Linked DNA regions of Homo sapiens: region 2 is linked to region 1. Evidence: fine-mapped QTL for protein levels in blood plasma. A gene starts in region 1. The other region holds a variant in brackets. All regions are shown on one strand. Distances are from middle to middle. Region 1 holds the start of RSPO1 (R-spondin 1). Region 2 overlaps RSPO1 (R-spondin 1).

What was found. PIP is the posterior inclusion probability: the model's chance that the variant is causal. Protein levels are from antibody-based Olink assays in UK Biobank. Linkage for the fine-mapping came from a reference panel and not from the study's own genotypes, which makes the PIPs less certain.
Region 2: its variant is fine-mapped to the plasma level of the RSPO1 protein (UK Biobank, PIP above 0.99).

Annotation. Positions count from the first base shown.
Region 1 is chr1:37,630,139-37,641,759 of GRCh38, forward strand. RSPO1 (R-spondin 1) reads right to left here and starts at 4,754. Exons shown (of 7, transcript NM_001242908.2): 1 at 4,428-4,754; 2 at 2,149-2,215. RefSeq lists enhancers at 452-621, 523-1,036, 3,045-3,572, 4,101-4,628, 4,629-5,155.
Region 2 is chr1:37,605,644-37,617,237 of GRCh38, forward strand. It overlaps RSPO1 (R-spondin 1), which reads right to left. Exons shown (of 7, transcript NM_001242908.2): 4 at 10,841-11,032; 5 at 8,541-8,690; 6 at 8,061-8,249; 7 at 5,707-7,278. The coding sequence ends at 7,112. Among named protein-coding and RNA genes, the nearest start is that of GNL2, 16 kb to the left of the region's middle. The variant C/T (reference allele first, on the strand shown) is at 7,760.

The DNA.
Region 1 (11,621 bases):
GGCAACCTGTGTAGCCAGAATATGGCAGACATTCAAACCAAACTTGTGGATCACTGATGATTTCTCAATAACGGGAGCCAGCTGGTCCCACCCCTGCTTCATGTTGTCCAGCTCTAACTGGAAGTCCTTCCTTAAGTCTACCCTACAGACCTCATGCTGCAGTAGTATCCTGTCTCTTGAAGAGGAGCTCTCTCTCTCTCTCTGTCCTTGCATGAGTGACCCCTCAGCCTTTTCTTCCCGGGGCTGAGTCACCCATGTGCCTTTCACCTGTCCTGGAGTTAGAGCAGTGGCCCCCGGCAAGCTGGCAGACCCTGCCTGGCCCTCTGGGCTTGGCGGGAGAAAAGGAAGTAAGGCTTCCCCCGGCCACAGAAACTCTGACACAGCAGGCCCGGCGGGCCTGGCCTTTGTGAGAGGATAAAAGAGGCAGCAATGCCCGCCCTGGCCAGAGACACAGAGAATGGGGATAATCCCCCAGCCCAGCGAGAGCCAGGTCTCTGGACCCGCTGGCCGGCTGGGGTGATGGGGGCAGGGGAGCCGGTCCCTCCCCTGATCAGATGTGTCTGGGAAGTTGGACATCTGAGCCCAACCTGGGAGTGAGAATGAAAACCCTGCTTCCCCGTCACGGGATCACACACATGCTCTGATGCTCTCAAGGTTCTTCCACAGCAGCGGCCTGCCCACGCACACCCCACACTCCCCCACACACACCCACACCACAACAGAGCATGCAGGCCAATAGCACAGAGTCTCTGTAGATGCCAGGGAGCCATCACCTTCCCCTCCAGTGGCTAGATGCCTTCGAACAAGTCATGTAGCCTCACTGAACCTGTTTCACATCTATAAAATGGGGACAAGCATGACTATGTCACAGGCTAGCTGAGAGTCAGAGAGTTCAGGCTCAGGAATGAGAAATCTGAGGTGCTGGAGTGGAGGTGCCCCTCCCACCCCCTGTCCTAATCCTTTCCCCTCTAGGCTCTTCAGTGCCAGTCCACCCCCTCGCCTGTCAGGGAGGCCCCAGCAGAGCCCACCTGCACGGGAGATAAATCATTATCCCCTAAGGGAGTTCAGTACCTCCCTCCTTGGCCTCTCCCGCTGGCTTTGAAGGCCAGACACACTCAAGTGGTTAAGCTGCCTGTGAGAAGTGTTTACATGAGGCTGATGGATCCCACCTGGTGCTGTGGCCTGAGCCAGAGGAGATGCCCCCAGCTACCCCCAAATGCCCGTCAGCTGCCAACCCCTGCACGCCCCTCCAGTACTCCCTGCCTGATTTACCAAAGCCTTTCTATCCTCCCCAGCCCCCACTACACAATTCTCTCACCCACAGATTATAGATGTCCAGTTGAGTTTATCAAACTGGGGTCTTCTGGCCCAAGTCTGTAGTCTCAGAGGCTGGCTGTACAGCATGATAGTCACGGGCATAAACTTCAGAGTCAGACTGCCTGGATTTGAATATTGGTTCTGCTACTTATTAGCTATGTTACCTTGCTTAGCTGGTCTGAGCCTGTTTTCTTATCTGCATGAAGGTTATTGTTGTTTATAACTTAAATGAGTTAATACACAAAACTGCTTAGAATGGTGCTGGCACACAGTGATGACTCAATAATATTTGCTGTATTTGTTATGACCAAAGCTTCACTTTGTGTCTACATTCTAATAATCATTCAAAAGGCAATATGAACATGTTCTGTATCATCTGGATACTAACCTTAATACTGAGTACTGTTATGCAATTTCCATATTTGCATTTATCTTTATGGTTGATTGCCTCGACACCAAAGCGATCACTCAGAGTGATAGGATTTGCCTTTAATTGCAGCATTTCTCAAACTAAGGTCTGAGAATCCCTGGTAGATCTGTTCCATGAGTCCTTACAGTTGACAAACACTGCATTAGACAAACTTGGTGTTAACCCTGGATCTGAAAGACTTTGGACTCACTGCGTGATCAATATCCCTGGGGTTTTTTGGGGCACAAAATGTCCCCTATGCATCTCTGCATTCCTTGTGCCAACCTGTCATGGTGCCTGGCAATTGAGGGTGAGTGCTCGGCAAATGTTAGCTCCCTTCTTTTTCCTCCCTCTCCTCTCCCTCTAAATTCCTTCTCAATCCTCCCAGGTCCTAGTTTTCAGCTGACCCCTGCCACACTCACCCAGTCCTTGCCAGCGGTGATCTTCTGGCCCACTCCCACCTGAATCACCAGGAAACCACAATCTCAGCTGGAAAATCGTAAGGAGGATCCAGATGTAAATTTCACTGAAGCAAGTGACACTGGCCTCCCCCACCTCTGGGATGGGAAGAGTTGCAAGCACTTTTTGAAAATGTACATATAGAATCAACCCTGTAAAGGGGCTAAGAGTTCCTCTATACCAGGGGGTACAAATGACATATATGATTGAAGCTGGATGTGGAGGGGGTAAACTGGAGGGTAAATGCCCCATCTAAAGGGAGCATATGCCGTTCAGCTCTGACTGATTGTTGAAAGATCTTCTGATTTTCTAAAAGAGGAGTGGAAAATCCAGGATCTTACATGAAATCTGATTTGAAATGCTGGACAGGTCTCGGACTAGGAACCCTGCAGCACCAAGCCTCAGAGGGCCACAGGTCCCTGCCTCAGTGGCTCCACATTCCTGCATCTAGTCCCTGACCCCATATGCGCACACACAGGCATGCACTCTTGCAGACATGGACAGCATGGGCTAGGGCTGAGAGAGGAGATATGAGCTGATGACTCCCTTTTAAGCAGGCTGCTTCATTTCTTTTAGAGTCCTCTGTCTGATTTCCTTTGAGCCATGGGCTATATGGCACTGGCAGTTTATGTTTTTGAGGCTCACTCTACACAGATAGAATGGGGACTGCTGGCAGTGCCTCAGGTTATTGGTGGGGGTAAGAAAGGGCATTTCTCTCTGCCACTGTGGGGGTGAGGGATTCACACTTGTTAGATGCCTCCCTCCACCTGCCATGTGCCAGGTCTTCGTTTACTCCTCACAATGGAAGGAGGAAGGTAGAATTATTTCCATTTTACAGGGGAAGAGACCTGGCCCTGAATGGTTAAGTGTCCCAGGGGTTACAGACCCAGTTAGGGACCTGCCCTCAGGTTTGCTACCCAGGACTGGGTGTGGGGAGGGCGGGGCAACCCGCTGGGAGCTGCTGAGTGTGGGGCACAACCCAGCTTGGGGAGTGGACCTGCAAAGTGGGGACGGGGCTGGTGGCAGAGGCAGAGCTGAGAAGGGAGACCAAAGCGAGAGGCCACAAGGGCCTCGGAGGGGAGTATACAGGTCGGGGAGGGGGACACAGCTGGAGGTGGAGCTGAGGGCAGAAACTCAGCCCCGGGAGGGGGCTGGAATCACTTTCACCTTCTTGCCTGCAATACCGTCAGAATAAAGTGGTACTCCATCAGGGGCCCGATACAGACCCAAAAATGTAAACTATCTAGATAATTTCGCATTAGCCCTCCCCGGGCCGGGCTACAGGCTGGAGAGTTTTGGCCGCCCAGCAGGCTGGCAGGCGGGGGCAGAAGAATTGCGGGCGGGGGGCGGGACAAAGTATGTGCCTGTCCGACCTGTCGGGATTAGCCTGTCTGTCGGAGCCAAGCCAGGTGCTGGGGCCGTGCCCCCCCTCCAAAAGCAAGGGCAGCGGAGGATGGCTTCTTCACCCCTCCATCACCCCCGCAAGCGCGCACATTCTTCTTCCCTCCCCCACCATCCCGCAGAGGCCCCAACAGGTGCCGAGGGAGACGCGGACCTGAGGTTCCCCTGGCTGGCCCTCAAGAGCCAAGAGAGCTGTCCACGTCTGAGAGGCCAGTTTCACAAGAAAACTCCTGCCCCCAAGCACACTCACTCCAAGTCTGTCCCGGCCCTCCAGGGAGTCCCGGGCGAACATAGCCCCCACCTCTCCCCAACTAAGCGATACCATCGGTTCCTGAGCGCCAGACCCCGAGGGCCAGGGAGCCGCGCCACTTCGCTGCGCACCGGGGGCCGCAGCGCATGCCGCCTGCCACGTCGAACCCAGGCCCAGGCTGCGGACTGGGGTGGGGGTCACCAGAGACCGTGGGACTTGGGGGAATCCGAGCCAATGAGCCCCAGGATCAAGAACTTCTGGATTGGAGGCGGGGTATAAACAGGGCTGGTGGACTTGGGGAATTCAGGACTGCGAGTGAGGATGATCACCCGGGGCTGCGGGATGGAGGGGAGTTCGAGGGGAAGAGGCTGCCTGCTGGATTGAGGGCCGACGGGGGCGGCAGACTTGCAGGAAGGGTGCAGGAGGTGCCCTGTCCTGATCGCCGACCGGAGAGCGATCAGACTCCCCTTCCTTTCTGTCTCCCCCCACGCACCCAGCTAGAACCAGCCCCGACGGGAGGGCCCGCCGCGCCCCAGCTCCCGGGGAAGGGGGCGCTGGGGAGAAGGATGGGGCAGCTACGAGGGGACTCACCTTCGTGCTGCCAGTCGCGACGGGGGCAGGCCCGGGAGGGGCGAGGGCGCGGCCCGCTCACCCGCCCGCTGCGGGACTGTCCTGGGCGCCCGGCTCGCCTGCGCTCCGCCCGCCCGTTCCCAAGTTGCTCAATCTGCGGACGGCTCACGCCCTCGGGGCCAGCGCCCCACCCGGCGCATCGGTCCTCCGGGGCGGCTCGGAGCTGCCCTCGTTCTCCGCAGCACCCGAGCGGATGCCCTACTCTGGCCGGTCGCTCCGGGCTCTCTGCCCTGCGCTGGTGCTCTCCGTCGCGCCTCCGCTCGGCCGGAGCTCCCAGCCCGGAGAGGGGCCAGTCCTCTGCGAGCACCAGGGAGGGAATCCCCCCCTTCGCAGTCCCCCCCGCGAGCCGGCCCCCCTTCCAGGGATCCGCAAGAAAAAATGGACTGGAGCGCCGGCCCGGGAGTCCACACGTCCTTGCCCGAAGCTGGCGCTCTGCGCTCCGAGCGCGGGGCTGGCGGAGGGACAAGTCCCCAGGACCCTGGGGCAGACCTTCTGCTTTTGTCCCCTGCCCCTCCCCGCGCCCCGGGGATTCCACGCAGCCAGAGAACCCGCAACAACTCCGCTCATCTTGGCGTCAGAACGCGGCCGGAGACCCTCATGAAAACCCCAGTTTCCCCATCAGGAACCTGGAAAGTGACAAGGAACAGGCTCCACAGAGCCTGGTGGTCTTGACCACACCCTCTCCCCCTTCAGGGTCAAATCTTCTGTGCATCTTCCCAGTTCAGAAGAAATACCAAGGCTATCAGATCCTGGGCACCGAGGTGAGGACACCTCCAGAGGCAGCTGGTAGGTGAGAGTGAGGGAGATCATACAATAACACTTAGATTCATGTCTGGCTCTATCACTTACCAGCTGTGTGGTCATGCCTAGGTTACTGAACCTCTCTGAATCGCAAGGCTTCATCTGTTCTGAGGGTTCAATGAAATGAAGGCTACAAACTTCTGGTTAATGGTGGGAACCCCATACATGTTTGTGGAATGAGTCTTGAACGGCTACAGACACCTGCAGTGACCCAGATGATGTTGAAGTCAAGCCCGAAGAAGGGAGGGAAGGAGACTCACTTCTTAGAGTGACAAACAGCTGTTCTCCAGCTTCACTTCAGATTGGGAAAGGAAAATGGGCTAAAACTGTAGTTAGTGGGAGTTAAGCTAGAGCAGAAAAGATGTACTGATTGTGTGTGTGTATAGGGGGGGTGAGTAATCAAGACAGGCTGTGGAATCTCCCTCTTAGGAGAGAAGGGGGGAGCCCTGACTATTGAGTTAAGGGCACAGGGTCGTTTACAATGACAGGAGGATGGATGTAATGACCCCTAGAGTGTCCCAATGGCCAGGGAACAGGGATGGTGGATAGCCAGAGAAAGTGGAGCAGTTGGGTCCGAAATGCCCAGTGTCTGGGTTCATTCAGCCAGAGCATTGCCAAGTTTGCAGGAGGCAAACAGTCATTTCCGAGTTGGTCCAGGGGCCCCCTCCAACCTCCAACCCCCACTCAAGTCCCTCCTCTCTCACCTCTGCCCTGAGCCTTCCCTGCGTCTAACCGGCCCTTGGCTATGCTCTGTGTCTAATCAAACAGCCCCAAATGCCGAAAACTCAATGTTTATTTTATTTTATTTTTTTACACACTTGCATAACTCTCTGACAAGCCACGCCAGGCATTGGGCTTTTTGTTTGGTTTTATTTTGTTGCATTTAGGAAAAAAAAGAGGGAGAGAGAGAGAAAAGAGAAGAAATAACACAAACCACACAGCCCTAGAAGCTGTCCTAGGCCAGGCAGTGGGCTCGGGTTTCCTGCCTGAGGAAAAGTCTGTGGAAGTTGGGGGGCCTCGTTACTAGGCTCAGGAATGAGTGAGAAAGGGAAGAAAGCCACCTGGGTGACAGAAGATAACGAATTAGAACCATGTGACAATAATGGGTGAATAAGAAAGAATGTTTCTTGTGCACCTAATGTATGCCAAGCACTGTGTTTTGCACATATATTCTGTTACCTAATTTCGCAACTATTGTAGTTCCTTTCTTTTTTCCTTTTTTCCCATAAATGTAAATTCTGATCCTCAGAGACGCCAAGTCAATTGCTCAGAGACACACAGCCTGCAAGTGGCCAGCCCAGTTCAGGTTATGCCAAATGAGTTGTTTCCCTGGGAAAGCTGTGTTGCTCTAAATTTGCATATGCTGTTCATTCTGCTTAGAAATGTCTTTTTCTCGGCCAGGCGCAGTGGCTCACGCCTGTAATCCCAGCACTTTGGGAGGCTGAGGCAGTCGGATCACGAGGTCAGGAGATCGAGACCATCCTGGCTAACACGGTGAAACCCCGTCTCTACTAAAATTGCAAAAAATTAGCTGGGTGTGGTGGCGGGTGCCTGTAGTCCCAGCTATCGGGGAGGCTGAGGCAGGAGAATGGCATGAACCCGGGAGGCAGAGCTTGCAGCGAGCCGAGATCACGCCACTGCACTCTAGCCTGGGCAACAGAGCAAGACTCCGTCTCAAAAAAAGAAATGTCTTTTTCTCTAATCCTTTTTGTGTCATCCTTCAAAAGGCCTGTATGAAGTTTAGCCTGACCACCTCGAAAGTCAGCCTCCAAACCTTGTGTAGACCTGTACACCACCCATCATTGGCCAATGATGGTCTCTTCCACTGCAGTGAGTTCCTAAGGAACTGGGAGGATGTTCACAGACAAAAGCAGAACTCTGTCCGCACGGAAGAAGGGCTTTTGGATTGGAAACTACTGGCATCTGTGATCATTACTGTTACTCTAGAAAAAGCTGACTTTGTTACTGTCAATTTATAGGCTCCCCTGAAAACTCTAGTCTTCATAACCCTGCTGTTCTCTGAAATCTTTCATTCATTCATTCATTCTTTCTATTTTTTTATTTTTTTATTTTTTAGAAGAAGTCTTGCTCGGTTGCCCAGGCTGGAGTACAGTGATGCGATCTCGGCTCACTGCAACCTCAGCCTCCCAGGTTCAAGCGATTCTCCTGCCTCAGCCTCCCAAGTAGCTGAGATTACAGGCACGCCACCACGCCCAGCTAATTTTTTTTGTATTTTTAGTAGAGACTGGGTTTCACCATGTTGGTCAGGCTAGTCTCGAACTCCTGACCTCAAATGATCTGCCTGCCTCAGCCTCCCAGAATGTTAGGATTACAGGCGTAAGCCACTGCCCTGGCTAGATCTTGTCATCCTTTCTTTCATTGAGGCAATATAGCATAACAGCTAAGTGCATGGACACTAGTATCGGCCGAGTTTGAAGCCCATCTCTACCACTGACTAGCTTAATGTCCTTGGGCAAGTCACTTCACCTCCCTAAGCCTCAGTTTCCTCATCTGTTAAATACATATAGTAACAGTATTAACCCACCACAGTTCTTACAGGGATGACATAAGATAATGCATTTAAAGAGCTTGGCACAATGTTAGGAATTATAGTAAGTACTTAGTACATGCTGGCTCTTCTTATTAGCTATAATTTGGTCAGTGCCTTTATTAGATATCAACCAAGCACTATTGTATCCCAGGCACAGGGCTGGAAATGGAGGATAGAGAAATGAGTATCACACTGTCTTCCTAAGGAACTCCTGGTTTAGTGAGGAAGGCCGACTCAAGAGCCTGGTGAAAGGGTAAATGAGGTAGAGTGGTGGGACAAAATAAGGGGTGACTGTGACTCCTTGAGGGAATCTGAGAAGGCTTCTCCAGGGAAGAAATGCTTGAAAGATTTATTGGCATTTTCTAGGCACATGTGATCAAAAGGCATTCCAGGCAGAGGGAATGGCAGGTGCAAAGGCCCGGAGGCCTGCTGCATCGTGGTGCCCTTAGTGCTATAAGTAGTTCTGCTTCGTGGGGATTTCGGATGAGAGAGGTGAGGCGGGGAAGAGGGCAGCAGATGGGGTGCTTCCAAAAGGACCTTATGGTACCAGGCCAAAGAGCAGGAACTTTACCTTGAGGGCAAGGGCAGCCCCTGAGTGTTGATGAGGCAGAAAGGCAGGACCAGAGTTGTGCTTTAGGAGTGTCTTGCAGCTCTGGTGAAGGCTGAATTTGAAGAGGCGAGACTGAAGGGAGTGAGGAGCCCCAGTGAGCAATAATAAAGTAGATCATTCCCAAGAACACTGCCCAGCTCTTCCTTGTTCCTTTCTCTCCACTTTCCTCCCAGGGGGTCTGCTGTGTCCTCTGGAAGCCCCATACCAGCAGAAACACACTTCTCAGATTCTCTACCTTGTTGTGAGTGAGTTCAGGCTCCTTTAACACACACCAGGGACGCCATCCCCTTTGCCCAACAAAGTCTGGCAATACCACTCATTCTCCTGCACGAGGGTGTGGCATCTGCCTCATTCCACACCGCCCCCCTGCCCTCCCTTTTGTAACTGTTCCTCCTGTTCTACCTCCCTGCTCTCTTCACCTGAGTTATTTCCCCCATGCCCTGCTGTGCTTTCTTTGCTCACACAGGACCCTGGCATCTGTCTCGAGGTCCTCTTCTCTGTGGCAGACTCAAGCATCACGTTGGGGACCTCGTTCTCTATGTCAGTGCTACGCCCAACACCTCTGGGACCTCCTGGACCAGGTCGATACTCTTGTCCACTCCACTTTGGCCTCCCATTCACATGGCCACCCCCTCTTGACCTCACCCAAATTACTCCATCCCTGAAATCATAGGCTTCAAGATCCTCAGACCCCCCCACTCTAACCTTCTGCTCCCAATCTCTCATGCCCTTCCTTCTAATTCAGATTCTTGGCGTTTCACCTGCCCGATAACGATTTCTGCACTGGCCTTGCCTCAACATCTCAACTGCCCCACAAACCCCCTGCCAGTTCCTGCTGAGCTCCTCTGGACAGTCCCCCAGCTACCTGAGACAGTGCCACTGCAAATCCACAGCCAGCCTCCACTGGGGCTTCAGCAAGCCCACGGATGACCGTGCAGACTTCCCCTTCCAGCCTCTCCCAGCCTCTCACTCCGTCCCAGCCCCCATCATCAAGCAGCTAAGATGGCCAAGAGTGGCCCCTTCAACTCCCTGCTCCTAAAACTAAACTCTTGGGCCCTGCACAGAACCTCTTTCTCCCCAGTTTTTCTCCTTGGAAACAGCGATGAAACTGATAAAGCAAGAAACTGGGAGTTGTTTTGCATTCTTCTCTCTCACCTCCCACATCCACTCTACTGGCAAATTCTGTTGGATCTGCCCCCAGAAACTTTCCTGCTTTAAGCCAATTTTGCCGCTTACCTGGACAATTGTTAGTGTCCCTTCCAGGTTGCCCCACTCCCACTCTGTCCCCCACCAACACAGGCTTCACACAGTAGCCAGAGTAAATTAACAATTATAAAGCAGGTCCCATCATTTACTCCCCTGCTTAAACCTTCCAGTGATTTTCCATCACACTTAGAACCAAATTCAAACACCATCCCTTATAAGGCTACATCCCTCCAGCTTCATACATCGCCTCTCTCTTGGCTTCAGCCCTACCAGGCTTCTTTCAGTTCTTTGGTAATTCCAGACTCTTTCTCATCTCAGGGCCTTTGCACAGGTTCTCTGCCATCTTGCCCTTCCCATAGCTCTTCATATGGGGCATTTCTTTTCTTCCTTTTTTTTTTTTGGATTAAAAATTTTTTTTAATAGAGGCGGGGGTCTCACTATATTGCCCAGGCTGATCTCGAACTCCTGGGCTCAAGCAATCCTCTCATCTTGGCCTCCCAAAGTGCTGGGATTATAGGTGTGAGCCACTGTGCCTAGCCTCTTTTCTTCCTTCGAATCTCCACTTAAAAATTATTCTGTTAGAAGGGCCTTCCCTGACCTCTCCATCTGAGTAGCTCCCCCATTATTTCATATCACAGCTTCCTTTCTGTTGTAGTGTATGTTGTATTTGTTTGTTGGTTTTATTTTGGTTTTAGAGACAGGGTCTCACTCTGTTACTGAGGCTGGAGTGCAGCGGCACAATCATAGCTCATTCTTCCACCTCAGCCTCCCAAGTAGCTGAGACTACAGGTACGTGTCACAATGCCCAAAATGTAAAAAAAAAAATTTTACATTTTTTTTTTTTTGTAAAGATGGTGTCTTACTGTGTTGCTCAGGCTGGTCTTGAACTCCTGGCCTCAAGACCAATCCCACCTTGGCACTGGGATTACAGGCATGAGCCACCATGCCTGGCCCTATTTTGCGTTTTGTAGCCATTTATTTGCATGCTTCTGTACTAGACTCCAGTTCCCAATCCTTCCATGTGAAAGAGCCCCCTTCCTTGCCACAGTTCTCACTCTCCCTGCATGATCCATGGCTAAGGTCACCAAAAACCTCCTTATCACCGCATTCTGTGGTTCCTTTGTCTTCCTCCTTCTCTATCCCTCTGCAATTCTTGACACCTCCACCTTCTTGGAATGCTTCTCTCCACTGTCCTGGTTCCTGTTTCCTTGTATATCTGTCCACCTCCCCTCCTAGCCCTTAACTGTGGACAAACCCAGGGTGATTCCCCGCCATCTGCCTTTCTTGTCAACCATGAACTAATATAGCTAAAAAGCACAATGCCCAATAGTAAGAAAAGTAAGTGTCAAGTTGGCTAGGCCATGGGAAAAAAACATTATGCTTTTTGTTTCTCTGCAAGTATTTTTTCAATGGGATTAATACTGAAATCAGTAGACTTTGAGTAAAGCAGATTACCTTGCATAATGTGGGTGGGCCTTAACCAATCAGATGAAGGCCATAAGAGGAAAAGACTGAACTCCCCTGAGCAAGAAGAAATTCTGCCTTTGGACTTGAACTGCAACACCAGCTCTTCCCTGGGTCTCCAACCTGCCAACCTATCCCTGCAGATTTTGGACTTGCCAGCCTTTACACTCATGCGAGCCAATTCCTTAAAATTTAATCTCTCTTTCTCATTGGCTCTGTTTCTCTGGAGAACCCTGACTAATAGAGGAGGTGCTAAATAAATCTTAACTTAAAAAATCCCAAACTCTTTCCTTAGTGAAATCTTTCTCACAGATCCATATATGTTGGGTCTGAGAGTCAGGACACCCAAGTTCTAGTTCCAGGTCTGCCACTTGCTGGCTTGATGATCTTATCCAACTCCCCCGACATCTGTAAACCTGCTCCTCCCTCAGTCTTTCCCATCTCCATAAACAGCATCTCCAGCCATCCAGATAATCAGATTAAAACCCCAAGAAGTAATTCTTCTAGATTGCTATCTTTCCTT
Region 2 (11,594 bases), 25 kb before region 1:
ATTATCCATATGTAAAGCCCTCAGAGATAAATCTGATGGGAACGATGATCAGATTAAAATGTTGAGTTCTGTCATCATGAGCCTGCTAGTCACTTGGCCTCAGCACCGAGTCCTCCCTCTTCAAGTCCTCCAAGATGAGACAGTGGAGTTCAACTGCCTGAATGGCCATCCTGACATCCCCATGGGGCAGGCTTGGGTCAGCAGGGCCACAGCTCACTGCCTCACCCACCCAACCGCCACAGCCTCTTCCCATCTCAGTGTCCTGCTCCAGTTCCAAATCCTTAGGAGAATACTTTCCATGGTCCCTGGGATTGTGACACCCTCATCGTCACACATTTGCCAAGCGAGCCTTCCAGGACTGGCCCAGGAAAGCCAGTTCCTTTGTTCCTTGCGCTGCCAGCTCATTTGACAGGCTTGGATCTGACCTGGCTGTTGCAGCATCACCTATCCCCCTCTTCTGCCCCCAAGTCCCTGTCCCTCCCCTACTCCCCGCTTCTGTTCCCCTGCCCTGAAGGCTGCCAGTTTATTCCTTTTGGAGATGAACTCATTGTTGACTTTAACTCACTTCGATGTTTCCCAGGGAAGCATTCTGGCGGGAGGCCCACCGCAGCTCCTTGAAGAAGACAGCCAGGCGAGGGCCAAGACTGGGTGCCAGGGGCCTTGGAACTGCCAAAATGCCTCCCATTTTATGGACAGGCCTGGCTCACCCTGAAGACATTCCAAGTATTTAATCAGCAGTCCATGGTACATATTGGGTTGCAGAGGGAGCCCTCAGAAGCTGGACTTTTAGGAGACAAAACTCAGCCAGAGGAAGGAGCTGGCCTTCTACATGGACCAGGCTGATGCTCAACAGATGGAAAAAGTGCATCCCAATAACAAGGATCAATAACCGAAGGCTGACAGCTGCAGAGACCTGGCCTGAGAGGCCCCTAAGGACTCAGTTCTGCCTCTTTCCCACACCAGACTGAGTCCAGCCAGGAATCCATCTCACCCACCTCCCTGCACCAAGCTCCGGGAGAGCGAACAAGCGAGGGAGGAACCATTTTTCACATACTTTCTCTTTCAAAATGTAGCCCTGTTTCGCAATTTCCTACTTAAGTTCTGGAAGGCTCTAGGGCAGAACCCAAGACACCTTCTCTAGCCACTGGCCTGGGTCTCTCGTCACCAAGAACCTGGTAGGCTAGCGGTGACGGAGAAAGGAAGGGGCCCAGATTTACGAACTCTCCCACTGTCCCCATCCATGCCAGCTCACCCAAGGGTCTATTTAGTGCAGGTCACTCTCTCTCTGTCTTTTTGTAGAGACAGGGTCTCAGTATGTTGCCCAGACTGGTCTTGAACTCCTGGCCTCAAGCTGTCCTCCTGCCTCAGCCTCCCAAAGTGCTGGGATTAGAGGCATGAGCCGCCACGCCCGGCCTCACATTCTTGATGCTAAAGGAGCTTCAACCAAGCCTCCAGCCAAAACCTGTTTATTGTTCCCCGTGTGTTGGCTTTCTCTTGGGAGAGCCAGAAGGTGCGCCACACCAAAGCAGGTGCACCCAACCCTGGTATGCTCACGTCTCAGCAACCCCTGAGGACCTAATCTTCAGATCTTCTCTACTCCCCTATAACTAGGCTTTTGTTCTGGCTCACTTTTACTGGCAGTACTAGACAGTATTCCAGACCTTTTGCAATGAATCCATTTAGTCCTTAAAAATGAAACCTGTTCCCTCTGATTGTTTTCCTCCCACCTTATCACTGTTCACTTGGGTTTCCACCTGTTGCCCATTTAAATCTGGTCTGGACCACAGCTGGAGAAGTGAGACGCGAAAAGCCAGCACCTGGGTTGCTGGCCCTGCATCAGGGACTTGTAATAGAGCCCAAGAAGCTGACCCTTTTCCTAAATTCCCTCTCAGTCCTCCTACACCAAACCAAACAAACCAGAAAGAAAAAAATCCCCACTTAAGTAAACAAATCCGGAAAACACAACCCCATCACCCAAAATATTGAAATGGAAAACAAATCTACACTCTGGAGATTTGATCTGAAACATACCAGAGCTGGAACTGTGTACGGTGGCCAGAAATGTGTTAGTCTGGGCAAATCTGTGGCCCCGTAGAGGAAAAAGCTAACATTTTCCAAATAACAATGTGGGCACGTAACAACTACATACAATCATGTGCTGTTGTTGCCTAAACCTGGGAATAGGGTTAGGCAGCTCCATATCTTGACATAGATTCCCTCTCTCCAGCACTCAGTCATCCTAAAAAGCACAAGGTGTGATGTCTGGACCAACTCTGGGCTGCTCTCAGCCCTTATGGTCTCTGCCTCAGGTGGGCTGCTTCTAGGGTTGTGAGCAGGTTTTGAAACACACACCCCTCTCCAGCTAAAGACAGGACAGAGTGAGACAGGAGTAGGTCCAGGTGGGGCTAATTGTTTTTTAGGAATGTACTGGGATCGCATCTGAAAGCACCCAGTGTATCAGTATCAGATGATCTTGCCAGTAATTCTGCAGATGTAGAAGCTCAAGTGTGGGGTGTACATCAGTGGATTCAGGACTTCCTGAAACCCATACTGTGTTCCTTATCTTAGCTGCCTAGGGCCTCAAGAGCAGCTTTAGGTGGCTCAAAGATGCGATGCAGAGAAGCGGGATGGCTCAGAGCATCACAGAGTTGATGGCAGGAGATACAGGAGGATCCAGCTCATTCTTTGATGTTGCTAAGATTCTGGATTTCTGCTTTGATGTTGGTGTAGAGGAAAGCTTATGACAGTGCTTCTCAAATTGTTAAATATCTGCACAAATTTACTAAGGGATCTTCTTACAAGGCAGAATCAGATTCTTTAGGTCTGGGTAAGGCCAGAGATTCTGTATTTTTAGCAGCTTCCAGATGAGGCCAAGATCGCTGGTCCATGGCCACACTTTGAGGAGCAAGAGCCTAAGGGTCAGGGACAAATCAGAGACAAAGACAGCCAAGACATACTGGGACTGAGGATTGATGCCCCAAAGTGAGAAACAGAAGGACAAAGAGAATCAATGGTGCACAAAAATAGAGTCAGAGGCTGAAGTGGGAACAGAGAAGGTCAGGGTGACAAAAAGAGGGACCGAGAAGACAGAGTTAGAGACGCAGAGAGGGGCAAAGGCAGAGGGAACACAGAGATGGAAGATGGATGGCACAGAGAGACTTGCAAAAACACAGCCAGGGTCAAGGAGAGGAGACAAGGTAAAGAGTGAGTGAAGAGGGGCTGGAGCTGGCTGTGGGCGGTCTGTGACTGGCAGTGAAGATCACAGGTGTAGACGGGACAAGACCTGCAGGTGCACAGACATGAAATCCCCCACCTTCCTCACCTCCCAGGCTTCCCGCACCTGCATCACTCTCTCCTTGCTCTTGCAGAGCCATCCCTCCCCATGGAACCTTCCACTACTGATTTCCCCTTCTCTTGCCTGTGTACTCAACTGCTTTCTCTTAAGTGCACCCCTCCCAGAAGGTTTTAAATACCATCAAGTCTTTCCCATCTAAAGAAAAAAGGTCTCTCTTGACTCATATTTCTTTCTAGCTCCTGTCCTATTTCTCTTCCTCTTTTTCACAGCTAAGGAATTGTCTGTTTCCATCACCCTCCCCAAACACTGCTGCTAAGCTTCTGTTGGCACACGTTGCTGAGTCCAATGGTCACTTTCCAGTCCTCTTTTGCTTGATCTCTCCCTCCTTCTTGCTAGCTTCTGGGACCTGATATTCCCCTGGGTTTCCTCTTGCCTGCTCCTTCTTTAACTCACCGTTTGTGATCTGATCTTTATATTTAGAGGGACTTTATATTAGAGCTGGGCCCAGACTCCTCTCTTCAACCAGTGCTGTCTTTTCAGTTGAGCTCTTCCAAACCCACAGCCTCAATTGCCTTCTGTACACCAGTTTACATTCCATCCCAAACTCCGCCTGTACAACTAAACTTGTGTTTATGTCTAAGCAATGTCTGCTCACCATCTTTACCAGGATGTCTCAGAGGTACTACAAACTCAACGTGGTCGAAAGCAGATTTATGTTCTTCCTTCTTCTCCCAAACTGGTCTTCCTCGCAGGTTTCCCACCTCAGAACACAGCACTGTCATCTGTCTGGGTGTTTGAGTCAGAAAAAGAGATTTCATCCTTGATAACTCCTCCCCGTCTCTCCCCTCTTCCACATCCAATGCATCACCAAATTCTGTCAACTTTATGCCCCAAATACCTTTTGATTTTGCTCACTTCTCTCCATTTCCACTGCCACCACCCTAGTTCAAATCTCCAACATCTCTCACCTAGATGACAGCAACAGCCTCCTAAGCAACCCCTCCCTAATCTGTCTTTCAAGCTACAGACAAAATGATCTTTGCAAAATGCAAATCTGCTTGTTTTGGCCTACTGCTTAAAACCCTTCAGTAGCCTCCTTTGGCTCTGAGAATAAAGGGCCAACTCCAGGCAATCTTTCTAGAATCATCTGAACTCATTTGCCCTCGAGACCTTCCAGCTATACTGGCTTTCTTTCAGTTCCTTGGCCAAACTATTTTCTGTCACAGGACAATTGCATATGCATGTCTGTAGAACTGTGCTGTCCAACATGGTAGCCGCTCACCACATGTGGTTATTGAGCACTTGAAATATGGCTAGTGCAACTGAAGAACTGAATTGCTAATGTTATTTAATTTTAATTGGCTAAATTTAAAATTTAAAAACATACATCATTCAGTTACAGAAAAACTGGTAAGTATTCTCAAAACAACTTGGGTATGTGTATCTTCTTTTTCAACTTTAGTTTTTATGCCATGTAATTACAGATCAGGTATTTCTGCTGAAAATTTAGCATCCAAATTAAGATATGCTGTGAGTGTAAAAATACACATGGAACATTGAACACTTAGTTTTAAAAAAGTAAAAGATCTCACTAATAATTTTTTACCTTGATTGCATGTTAAAAAGATAATACTTTGGGGCCAGATGCAGTGGCTCATGCCTATAATCCCAGCACTTTGGGAAGCCGAGGCAAGAGGATCGCTTCAGCCTAGGGGTTCAAGACCAGACTGGGCAGCATAGTGAGACCTCATCTCTATGAGGAAAAAAAAAAGATAATACTTTGCATATATATGGTTAAATAACAGATGTAATTAAAATTAATTTCACCTCATTCCTTTTTATACTGTGGCTACTAGAAAAACATTTTCTTTTTTTATTACTTAATTTTGTTTTGCACACCAGGCTGGTCTCAAACTCCTGGGCTCAAGTGATCCTCCTGTCTTTGCCTCCCAAAGTGTTGGGATTACAGGCGTGAGCCACCCTGCCTGGCATTTTTTTTTTTTTTTTTTTTTTTGAGACAGTCTCACTCTTTTGCCCAGGCTGGAGTGCAGTGGTGTGATCTCGGCTCACTGCAGCCTCCACCTCCCGGGTTCAAGTGATTCTCCTGCCTCAGCCTCCGAGTAGCTGGGATTACAGGTGCACACCACCACACCCGGCTAATTTTTGTATTTTTAGTAGAGACGGGGTTTCACCACGTTGGTCAGGCTGGTCTTGAACTCCTGACCTCGTGATCTGCCCACCTCAGCCTCCCAAAGTGCTAGGGTTACAGGCATGAGCCACCGCGCCCGGCCCAAAAATGTTAAATTAAATATGTGGCTCACATATTTCTACTGGACAGCAGCAGTCTGTCTTAAATCCTTCTACCCATCCTTCAGAGTTAGGCTCAAATATCACATCCTCTGAGACACCTCCCTGAGAGAAAGTATTTTATTTTTATTCTGCTTTATTCACTTTCATAGCTAAGCATAGATGCCAGTGGTCACCTGCCCTTGGCACCATCCTTTTGTAGTTATATATGTGTTTGTACAATTCCTTGGTGCATGCCTATTTTCTTCCCCACCAACCTCTAAGCTCCACAAGAGCAAGGCCCGTGTTTGGCTCCTCCCTGGAAACCTAGCACCTAGTCCAGAGCCTGGCACACACTTCAGAATGCCACAAGGAGTTATTCCATCCACTGCCCTGCCTTTGGGCAGGATTGTCCCCAACCATCACTGGAAGCCTACGCACTCCCTTCCCCTGGCAGTGCCACTAGCCCTTCAGTATATAGATTCTGCCTCTCCCAGATGGAAAGTCCTCCTTTATAGCTGACCAGAATCCCTCCTGCTGCAAGATGGCCGGGGCCCTTTCTCCCGTCCTTTAAGGGGAATTACAGCAGCACTTCTCAAATTTGGGTAACATGCCAATCATCAGGAATCTTAAAATTTAGACTCTGGCTCACCAGGTCTGGAATGAGACCTGAGATTCTCATTCCTAACAAGCTGCCCTGTGACAACACTGCTGCCGGGCCATGCTCTGAGTAACAAGGATATAGACAGCCTGTTTACCACCGTCAGAGCAGCCCCTAAGTTTTCTTCCTTGTCTGCATGACCCTCTACTGAGCAGGCTATTTGGGGTCTCTTGAAATTCCCTGTCCCTTCTTGCTCCTACGCATACCTCGCCAAACCCTCACACCCTGCAAAGGAATGTGGTGCCTGTGTCTACTGCTGTCGTTGATTTTTTTGTTTTAATTTGAAATAAACCTTTAAGCAGTTTTCAAAGTCAGGTTAACCCTGATATGTATCCTGGAAGGGTAACAATACTCTCCAACGATAAAGTCACACAGCTGGGAGTGCTGAACAGGATGGGAAGAAGGTTTCTTCCCAGGTCACCAGCAGTCCTCAAGCTTGGCTCCCATCTGCCACAGTGGCTGGTCCGATCCCAGCAGCTTCTCCAGAAGGCTCCCCTCTGCAGTTTGGTCTCAGATGCTGGGAAGTGTTGTCTCTGACATGTCCACTGGGAGCTCTGGAAACCAAGTGTGTACTGCTGGGCCCGAGGGATGGAAGTGTCTTCTGGTGGCCTCAGGTGTGTGTGTGTGTGTGTGTGTATGTGTGTGTGTGGTGTCTGTGTCTGCGTGTGTACATGAACACACATGTGCAAGTATGTATGGTTGTATATGTGGACAGGGGTTTGAGCGTGTGTGTCTTGTGTCTATGTATGCATGGATGGATTGGAGTGTGTGTGTATGCTTTGCCCCCGACGTTCCAGTTCAGGAAAGCTTGAATCACGCAGAGTAGCACTGAACTCTTTCTGCATGGGCCTGGAGGCTGGACAGTGTCCCTAGGCAGGCCCTGCAGATGTGAGTGGCCCCACTGTCCCTTGCTGCTGCTGCTGTTGCTGCCCCTTGCGTCTTCGAGAGCCAGCACCCGCCTCCTTGCTCTCCTTCCTGGCCAGGTTCCTGTTGGCATTCTCCCGCCGGCCCTGGCCTCCCTTCCTCCTCTTCTGCCCTGAAACAACCAAACAGCAGGAAGAATCAACAAAGGATGTGCAGGGAGGCCCTGGGCATGGCCACAGGCCCTAGGAGGGGAGTGTGAGGAAGCCGGAAGGGGAGGCAGGGAGGAGGCTGGAGATGCTGCCTCTAGGTAGTTGGGTCATCGTGACCTCCTCTGACAGCAGCCACTTCAGAGGACCCCGAGGCTTGAGTACTGGGAGGCAGCCCAAGAGCCCTTTCACTCCCCAACCCTCAAGGCACACAAGACATCATCCTCTTCCTCATGGATTCCTCAGACCTTGGATCCCAATGGACCAAGAGCACTTCCCAGGTATTCAGTGCAACTCTCAGAACAGGCAGGACTGCCCCCATCCCCTATCCGCCACCAGCCACCTCTGGGGCCAGGCAAGAGCAGCAGCCAACCCCTTGCCAACTGCAGGCTGTGTGACTTTGGTGGAATCACTACACCCCTCTGGGTCTTAGTGCCCCTTTTCACC[C/T]ACCCATCCTGCCTCCGAGGGGCCTTCTAGTATGAACATCCACTAGCTCAGAAGAAATGGGGGAACCGGAAGGATGTTGACCACAGAAGCTTCCAGCTTCCACTATGCAGAGTTCTGAGGCCCTGTTCTCTGCCAGGACATGGCATCTGGATTGGACAGCATGAGGTCTTGAGTTGCGGGTGCCCCATCTGGCCTTGCCCTGAAGCTTCTTCCTGAGCCGTGGGCAGGAAGCAGAGGTGGCAGGACCTGTCATGGCTGGTGCCTGAGCCCTGACCCCAGGGAGGCAGAGGCTGCAGCTCACCCTCAGGACACGGCACTCTCCTCACTGTGCACCTCCGGGTCTCCTTGGTGTCAGAGCAGGCAGCATGGTCCCCCACAGGGGCATGTAGCACCCTGCGTGTCCGCTCCTCGGAGCCCCTCCGGAAACCACAGAGCTGCTGCTTCTTGGAGCAGGGCCCCCACGGAGACCACTCGCTCATTTCACATTGCGCTGGCAGGAAGAGAAGGGAAGGGAGAGAAGGACAAGGAGGAGGGGATCATGTCTCCTCCTCTGGCCCAGAATAGCCCAGGGGAGCATCTCCCACTTTCCTTCTGCCTGGACCTGAGGCTGCAGGTATCTTTAGTCCAGAGGGCAGAAAAGTCCTTGGAGACTCAGAAAGGAGTGGTAGGGTAAGCTCTCCCTGCACAGTGCCCCAGCCCACCCGCTCTCTTGCCAGACCCTTACCCGGCCCCTCCTTCTGGGGTCCTGGACCCTCTGCCCACAGTGCCTGCCATGGCTTACCAGGACTACTGCACTCCATGGTGCCATTGGCAGCTGAGGAGCCCTCGGGACAAGCTGGATAGCAGCGGCCCTTGTGCAGGTACAAGCCCTCCTTACACTTGGTGCAGAAGTTATGGCTGAAGCAGGCCTCACAGTGCTCGATCTTGCATTCTGAGGAGAGGACAGATTGGGGGCTTCTGGCCCAGCCTGGTGAGAATGTTTCCCCTCATCCCCAGCCCCAATACCCTCCCTTCTGTCCACACCCACCTACATGGAGGGCAGGACCCTGGCCTAGAGCTGCAGGTACTGCAGAGGAATCTTGGGAGGAAAGGGAAAGGAAGGGCAGTGGCAGGCCAGGGAAGAAGAAGCTGAAGCGGTTGCTCCTGAAGGCTGGCTGGGACTCTTGCCACCATCAGCCAACTCGATCATGAACCCAGTCTCAGTCCCTGCAGCCCAAGGTGAGGCTCAAGAGAGCAGTTTCAGAGGCGGAGGGTGGGGCCGTCTGGGCCTGGTGGGGGTGGGACAGGAGAGTTTCAGCATCTCACAGCATCCAGAGGGCCACCCTAAACAGAGTTGAACTGAGGGACAGAATGGCCCCCCAGAGAGTGGCTGCATGATCTCTTCTTCCCTCATTGCTGGGCATCTGCAATGTCCCAAACTGTGGTTCTCCTCCTGCCTGGCAGAAAGAATCAGCATGGAGGAGGGGTAAGCCATCCCAGGGCAAATGCCTCTGCCTCTGCAAGGCTGAGTTCCAGCAACAACCTTGGTAGGACTCCTGGGTCCCTCCCTGATTCCCTGCTGCCAGTTCTCTCCTCTGGGGGAATGGGGGCAGGGTGGGTCTTCCAGGGCTTGGCTGGAAGCAGGCAGGGTCTTTCACAATCTCTCCTTCCCAGAGTGCAGGCGGGGCTGACTTCCTCCCAGGCTCTGCCACCTGAAGCCCATGCTGCCAGTTTCCTAGGAGCTGGTGTAGCCAGGAGCTCCCGACTTTAAGGACCATGAGGACCAAGAGGGTAGCTCCCAGGGTCCCACCTCTGTCCTCACAAACTCCCACCATCCTCCAGGCTTATCTCAGCCTCACCTCTCTCCTTCCCTCCTTCCTTCCCTCCCTGGTGCTCTGATTCCTGGGTTTGGTTGCCAGTCAAATAAGAACAAAAATAAGAACAATAGCAGCTACCATTCATTGAGTGCCAGACACTAAGGGCTTTACATGCATGTCTCACAACAACCCTAGGGGGTAAAAACAAAGATGAGGCATTGAGGGGTTGAGATGTGCTCAAGGTCACACAATGAAGAAGTAGCAGAGTTGAGCTCAGAACCAACTCTGAGCTGGACTGGTCCAGTCTAGTCTTGGACCAGTCATTTACCCTCCGGGCCTGAATGTTGTCAGCCCTGAAAAGGGCACCATCAATTGTGTCCTGTCTCCCTCCCAGTGTTGTTGTGAGGCTCAACTGATATGAGACCTGCAAATGCATTCTAAATGGCAAGGCACTGAACAAGTGGTGGGGGCACTGGCATTGTCCCCCGAGTGTGTTCACACGTGTCCCCCAGCACATCACAGCTGCATCTACAGAGAAGGGATGGAGATATGGTAGCGTGTGCCTTGGAGCATGTGGAGCTGTAGCTGTTGTGGAAATGAGGAGTCAGAAGACCAGGGAGAGAAGAGAGTGGAAGAGCAGGCTGCCTGGGCTTGGATTCCCCTGCAGCCCATGTGGAGCTAGCAGTGGTTTTTAAGCAGAAGTGTGATGGGATAGGTTGTATGTCTCAGAAATGTGATGGGATAGGGATAGGTTCTGTGTCTCAGAAGTGTGATGAGATAGGTTGTGTGTCTCAGAAGTGTGATGGGGTAGGGTGTGTGTCTCAGAAGCGTCTTTCTGGCTGAAGTGCAGAAGATGGGTTTCAGGGAACCAGATGAAGGCTGGAGGACAGATGAACAGGCTATTGCAATGATCCCGGAGCAAGGTGCTGGGAGCCTGGGGAGGACAGTGGCAGTGTGGACATACAGGAGATGACAGGCAGGCTTTGGTGATTGGATGGATGGGGTGGGAGAGGTTGGCACTCAGGGCTGTGGCTTGGGTGACAGGTTGGGACATGGAGGGTGACCTCTGGGAATACAGGTAGGGGCAGGTGCGAAGGGAGGAGACAGGGTTCTGATATTTACACACCAAGGTGGAAGTGTGCGGCTGGATACTTGAATCGGAGCCTCATCTCCTCTCCTCAGAGCCCCCTCTGCTCCTCTTGCCAGCCACCAATGGTTCAAAGCACTCTCCCCCAGTCCAGAGCTTCTAATGCCCCCTGCCCCCGACAGCCCTGCCCACACTCACTGATGCACTTGTTCATGTCGGGGTTGCGGGCGTCGAAGTATCCAGGTGGGCAGGACGGCAAGCAGACGCCCACCTGGCGGATGTCGTTCCTCTCCAGCAGGATGAACAGCTTGGGTGAGCACTTGAGGCAGCCGTTGACTTCAGAGCAGAGCTCACAGCCTTTGGCACAGGCCTGGCTCCCCTCGGCACTGACTGCAAAGGTGGAGCAGGCATGAGAAGGCGGCTGTGGAGAGAACCTCACCTATCCAGATTCTGACAAGGATGGGAAGTGAATAGATCGATGTTTCCTTCCACAGAAGGAATATGCTTCTCAGAAAGCACCGGCCAGGCTGGCAGCTCTCTGCAAGGCTGCTTTATACACCTTCCCAGTAGCTTTTCTCCAGAGAGCTAGCACAGATGCTGACCCATGTGCTTCCCTAGCTCCAGACACGACACGAGTTCACTCTCTAGGCTGGCTCCACCATCCCCAGAGAAGCAACCCAAGCTGCAGCCTTCCTGGAATTTATCCACTCTCCCCAGAGCACAAAACAGTCAGCCTTAGTTGTAGAAGGAGGGTTTCTTAAATTTCTGAGAAAGTTTTAAGGGCAAGAGGGATAAATAGTGAAATAGAAAAGGACCACCTACCCAGAAACACAAAGACAATTGGAATAATCTATGCCTAGAACAGGGGTCTCAACCAGGGATGATTTTGCTCCCCAGGGGACATTTGACAATGCCTAGAAAGCTTTTTGGTGATCACACCTGGGGAAAGGGG